Linked DNA regions of Homo sapiens: region 2 is linked to region 1. Evidence: fine-mapped expression QTL. A gene starts in region 1. The other region holds a variant in brackets. All regions are shown on one strand. Distances are between the middles of the regions. Region 1 holds the start of TTC34 (tetratricopeptide repeat domain 34). Region 2 overlaps MORN1 (MORN repeat containing 1).

Evidence for each region.
Region 2: its variant is fine-mapped to the expression of TTC34 in aorta (GTEx, PIP 0.98).

Annotation. Positions count from the first base shown.
Region 1 is chr1:2,800,258-2,803,153 of GRCh38, reverse strand. It overlaps TTC34 (tetratricopeptide repeat domain 34), which reads left to right and starts at 1,461. Exons shown (of 9, transcript NM_001242672.3): 1 at 1,461-1,577; 2 at 2,286-2,896. The coding sequence starts at 2,327.
Region 2 is chr1:2,340,863-2,343,758 of GRCh38, reverse strand. All of the region lies in intron 10 of MORN1 (MORN repeat containing 1), which reads left to right. Among named protein-coding and RNA genes, the nearest start is that of MORN1, 49 kb to the left of the region's middle. The variant A/G (reference allele first, on the strand shown) is at 1,293.

The sequences.
Region 1 (2,896 bases):
GGGCACTGTGCACAGGGCAGAGACGCAGGGGGCCCATCGGCACTGCTGTGATGGCAACTGTCGCGCAGACCTGCCACCTCTGTGCCCCGGGCTCTTCTACAGCCCTGGTGACAGCCCCACTCCATTACAGCTCTCGCCTAATTAGGGCAATTAAAATGAAAGTAATCAACACCGAGTAATGGGCAATCTCTTAATAAACTGCCCCCACTGCATTACCCGCACAGGCCTTGGGCCCTGGTGAATGTCATGGAGCTGAAGAACTGGGCCAGGCAGCCCCAGCCCTGCTGACCCCCCTGCCCTGCACCCTCAGACTGACCCTGACTGCTCTGCCCACGCTGCAGGGGCTCCACACCCTCCCCAAAGGGCCTGCGGGGCATGTCTCAGGAGACCCAGACATCGAGGGGATCAGGGATGCCACCCCCCACTCCCAAGATCTCCTCCCCCAAAGGGCACCCCCAACCCTGCTTCCCTGAGCCCCACAGAGGAGCCAGCATTGGCCTGGTGTCCGGGCACCTTGGCATCCTGAATTGGGAGGGACCTCTCTCAGGGACGCACCACCCCCATTCCCCCCACTCATGCCTGCCCTCCAGGGCAGCTGCCGGTGGTGGGGTCTCAGCTTCAGGGACCTGAGCCTGCCTCCAGCCACCCCACTCAGTCTTTCTGCTCCTGCGGCATGGGCTGACGGTGGCCACGGGCTGAAGGTGATGTTTCCTAAAATAGTCCCTATGCTGCCACCCCTTCCTCAGCAACAATCAGGGTCCCTGGGCAGTAGGCTCAGGTCATGGCTCCCAGAGCTGCCTCTGGGCCTCAACCCTGTGATGGGGGAGGGGTGTGCCCTCGGCTAATGTGCCCTGCCCTCCCCAGGGCACAGCTGGCTCAGCTGGTGCAGGCAGGACAGGGCTGCCTAAGCCTCTCAGAGGGAGGACGGCCAAGGGAAATGGGCTGGCTGTGCACGGAAGGTCCAGTCCCAGCTGCCGGCACAGGGAACAGCCTGTGGGGAGGTGCCCCAGGACCGGGTGACAGGGCCCTGCCAGAAGAGGAGTGAGGCTGGGCGGTGAGGGGCCCGCATAGCAGCCCAGGCGGAGTTCTGGGGGACAAACCCAGAGCCTGAGTGCACTGGGTGGGCAGGCGGCCCCCACCTGCCTCCAGGAAGCGCCCTCCTCATCTATGTGGAGAGGAGGCTGGGGGCACCCTGGCAGAGCAGGCAGGGTGGAGGCTGGCCCCGGCTATGGGGGGCTGTACCCCACAGGCCCCTTCTCCCCCAACACCCCCATGAACTCAGGGTTCTCTGCTCTGAGGCAGCCCATTGGAGCCTGGCTGGGGCAGTGTGGGTGGGACCTCGGCCTGGTAGCCTCTGGCCACAGCGGGGCGCTGCAGGACAGCCAGGAGACCCAAGGGTGTTGACACTCTCCCGGGAAACCGCAGGCTGTGCCTTCCCCAACCCACACGGGGCGGTCATAGGAGCCCCACCCAGGCCTGGGCCCTCCAGCCAGCCACATCCCTCTGTCCCCCACCACCCACGAGGGAATCTGGGTCCCCAGGGCACAGCCGGCTCAGCCTCCAAGCTGCAGACGAGTGTGAGTGTGTCTGTGTGTGTCTGAGAGCGGATGCTGGGGGCTGCCTGTTTGATGAGGGAAGAAAGGGCTGTGCGGAGCTAGTTCGTCAGGTCAAGTAGCTTGGGGACAGGGAATAGGGGAGTACCAGGGGCTGTCCCTGGAACCTCAACCTCAAAACTGAACCCCCCCACCCATGGGCTGGGGTGGCTCCCCCGACCCAAGGGCCTGGCAGGTGCTCTCGGCGCCCCCCTCGAATGGCCCAGGTGTGAGAGGGTGGGCAGGGGTGTGGTCCTGCGTCCCACTGAGAGGGCTGCCTGGACTGACGGGGGGTGTGCCTTCCTGAGGGGCTCAGGGTTGGGAGGGGCAGAGGGTGGGTCCGGGGTTCCTATTGCTGGGCCCTGACACCTCGGGCCACCGTAACCCTCCCGACATGGACACTCAGGGGTCAGATGTTCTTAGAGGGAACTGAGCTGGGGGAGGCCACTGTCCCATTCTGCAAGGCACGAAACTGAGGCCCCAGAGGTGAACAGTGGGCTGGAAGTTGGCCTGGGACACCTGGTAGGCCCCACCCCACCAGCCCAGGATCCCCCCAGTTTTCACCCAGTGGGGTCTGCACTGACCGTGGGGTCAATGGGAAGGGGTGGAGGTGGCTTGAGGCTGGGCACGGGTGGCCACAGGGCAGGAGAACTGGCCGCCCTCTGTGGACTCACCATGCTCCCCCACCCCCAGGTACTCTGAGGACCAGACATGGGCCCGTCGGGGTCCCAGACATGATGTCAGCCCAGGAGCTCGTGGCCTGCCTCTGCCGGGAGGGGGAGCAGCATCTGGCGCTGGGGGAGCTGCCCCTGGCCACCGCCTTCTACCTGGCTGCATTCAGCTGCCACGCCCCCTCAGCCCTGCAGAGTGTGCGCACTGCCCTGGCCCAGGCTCGGGGGGCGGCGGTGGTGGCCACCCTGGAGTCCTGGTGCCGCGGGGACAGCCAGATCCCCGCCATCCACTGGGACGGCATGGCAGTGGTCTCCCTGACAGGGTCGCTGGCCTCTGCCTTCCTCGGCGCCCTCTGCCCGGACCACCCCGCCGCCATCCTGCACCTGCTGGCAGGTCTGCTGGCCCGCGGGCGTCACGAAGAAGTGGTGCAACGCTGCAGCGCCCTGCTGGACTCTCATGCACAGCAAGTCCTGGAGCTGCGGCTGACCCGCGCCCTCGCCTGGGTCCTGTCCGGGGTGCAGGCAGCGGATGGTGTGGCCGCCTATCTCCAGGCCTTCGCCTCCAGCGCCGACCGGACGGTAGCTTTCATTCGCACCCACCAGCGGCCCCACCTCCCCGCGCTGCTCAGTGCC
Region 2 (2,896 bases), 460 kb after region 1:
AGCTGGCCTCTGCGGCTGTGCGTCCTCCTGCCACCCTGTGAAGCTGCTTCCAAGGCTCCGCGAGGCCTCTGTCTATCTGAGAGCCCAGGACAGCTGTGGCAGGGTGGCTCCTGGCCTGTCCTCCCCAGGAAAGCTTCAGAACAGCTCGTGGGAATGCAGTGGAGGTGAGGAGAACCCTGAGGACAGCAGCCGCAGGGAGCCCCGGACCTTGGCCAGGCCCCCAGGCCCGAGTCTCAGTCCTCGAGGGGCCACTGCTGCTCAGCACAGCACCCCCAGAGGATCAGGAGCAAGATGAGGGGCCTGCCCCACACCCGCCTGGCTGGAACGGCACCCGCCTGGCCCCGGCAGGGCTGGTGCCCCGCAGCGTCATCCCCAGGGCCCGGCGGCTCTGTCACAGGGCCCAGCGGCTCTGGCAGCTACACAGACAGCTTTGTGGGGGGCTCCTGGAGGCGAGGAGCGGGCGGGCACGGAGAGAGCCCAGAGCAGTCCTGTCTTGGCAGCTTTACCAGCAGAGGTGCCCGCAGGTCCCAGAGGCAGGTCTGAAGGCAGCAGTGGAGAAACGTCAGCATCATGCTTGCCAAATACGCAGGAGCAGCCACGACGGCCCAGGCCCCAGGAGCTCTGGAGTGTCTTTTATTTTCTGAACGTTCAGGAAGGATGGAGGCTACTGGAGATGGAGGCTTAGGGTCAAGCGCATTTTCTATGCCTCAGGAAAGGCAGGGGAGCTGGCGCGGGGCCACGCCCGTGATCCCAGCACTTTGGGAGGCTGAGGCGGGAGGATTGCTTGAACTCAGGAGTTCAAGGCCAGCCTGGGCCACAAAGGGAGGCCCCATCTCTATGATTAAAATAAAATAAAATAAAATAAAATAAAATAAAATAAAATAAAATAAATAAAATAAAATAAAATAAAATAAAATATAAAATAAAATAAAATATTTAAAAAGGCAAAGGAAAGGCCAGCCCAGGTCCCTTCTCGGTGACAGTGCTAGGGCCCATGCTGGCTCTGCTGAGGGAGGCCAGGCACAGTGCTGGCCCAGCCTACACCTCCTCGTGGATCTTGGGTGGCTTGGGTCAGCAGAGCCATGTCTGCGGTGTGGGAGGTGAGAAGGGTGAGGGAGGTGAGGACGAAGCCCGGGGCTGGGGACAGCAGGGGAGTCCGAGAGGCCCCCCATGTGTCTTGTGTGCCCCCGCGTGTTCCCGCTGACTTCTCCAGGCCCCACCCTGCGTCTCTAATGAGCCGCGCTTCTCGGCTGACTGATGGACTCTTAAAGACTAATGCCCTGTGTCTGGTC[A/G]CCTCCAAACGAGACTGTTCTCGTCCCCTTAGGGCCAATAACGTTTTATGTTTTTAATCCACTTAAACGAAGTCAACGTTTCTGCTTCGGCCTGCCCTCCCCCTGGCCAGGTCCTGCGCCTGCCGCGGCTATTCTTGGGGCTGGCCTGGCCCGAGCAGCCTTGTTGATTCGGGCAGCATCCCTGCCTGCTGCCTGGTGCCCTACACAGGTGACTAGGGAGTCTAATTGAGTCCGCCGTAAAAAGATAATGAATTGGAATTTCCCTCCAGAGCGGTCAAGCTGCCCGATCCCGTCCCGGGCTGGCTCAGCCTCTCGGTTCCCGAGGCCCCCGAGGTCGTACGGTGACCTTTATCTTGCTTATAAAGCTGTAACTGATGTCATTAAAACTGGCATAAAGGCTTGGAAGGCACTCCTGAGAGCTGGGGAGGGGCATGCCTGCCAGGAGGTGACAAGCATGGCCTTGGCTCGGGAAGTGCCCCAGACACTGCCGGGGACCCTCACTCTCCATCACGAATGGTTCCTCTGGGGCCCGTGGAGCCCAGAGTTTGATGAGCTGACACATCCATCACAGAATGTGTCTCCCTGAGCCTTGGAGTGAGGCCCACTCGGGCTGGCGGGCACCACTCAGACGGGGAAGAGAGGATCTCCACTGACGGTGGGCGCTGCGCTGTCCGAAGGTGTCTCTGCACCTCGGCTTTTCTGAGTTTAATGCCTTTGGGGGGCACTTGCCATCAGACTTTTAGCCTTTTCTTTTTCTTTTTTTTTTTTTTTTTTCTTGAGACGGAGTCTCGCTCTGTGGCCAGGCTGGAGTGCAATGGAGCGATCTTGGCTCACAGTAACCTCTGCCTCCCGTGTTCAAGCGATTCTCGTGCCTCAGCCTCCCGAGTAGCTGGGATTACAGGCACCTGCCACCACACCTGGCTAATTTTTGTATTTTTAGTAGAGACGGGGTTTCACTATGTTGGCCAGGATGATCTCAATCTCCTGACCTCCTGATCCGCCTGCTTTGGCCTCCCGAAGTGCTGGGACAGGCATGAGCCACCACGCCCGGCCCCTTTTAGCCTTTTCTTTTCAGTGGTTTGGCCTAATGGGAGCAAGTTTGCAGACGGGGGCATGAGCAGGGTGATGCCCAGGAAGGGGGTGATGTTGGGGGGCAGGTACACTGTGACCAGCAAGTTGGCTCGGCCAGGCACCTGGCCATCGCACGGTCAGCAGCATGCCCAGGACCAGTTGGGGACCGCTGGGGACAAGACAGGGAAGTGTGCTCTGCTGGGGACAGATCCACAAAGGGGAAGCTGGGCAGCAGGCAACAGGTGGGACACAGCAGGGCTGGGAGAGGCTCCGTCGGGAGGAGCCACCAGACCGAGGTGGTGTGGGGACCGGGACAGAAGGGCAAGGCCAGCCTGCACCAGACGAGTAGCAGTGCCAGGGCCAGAGGGGCCGGGTGGAGACGTGCAAGGAGGAGAGGACCGTAGGACAGCCCGCGTCGTGGTCTCGTGGCTGGTATCACGGTCTGCACTATGGGCCCCATGTTTTGGCTTGTGTGGCAGCCCTTGCCATGGCCTATGTGGCCGTCTGTGTGGCGGCCACAGGTCGTGGCCTTT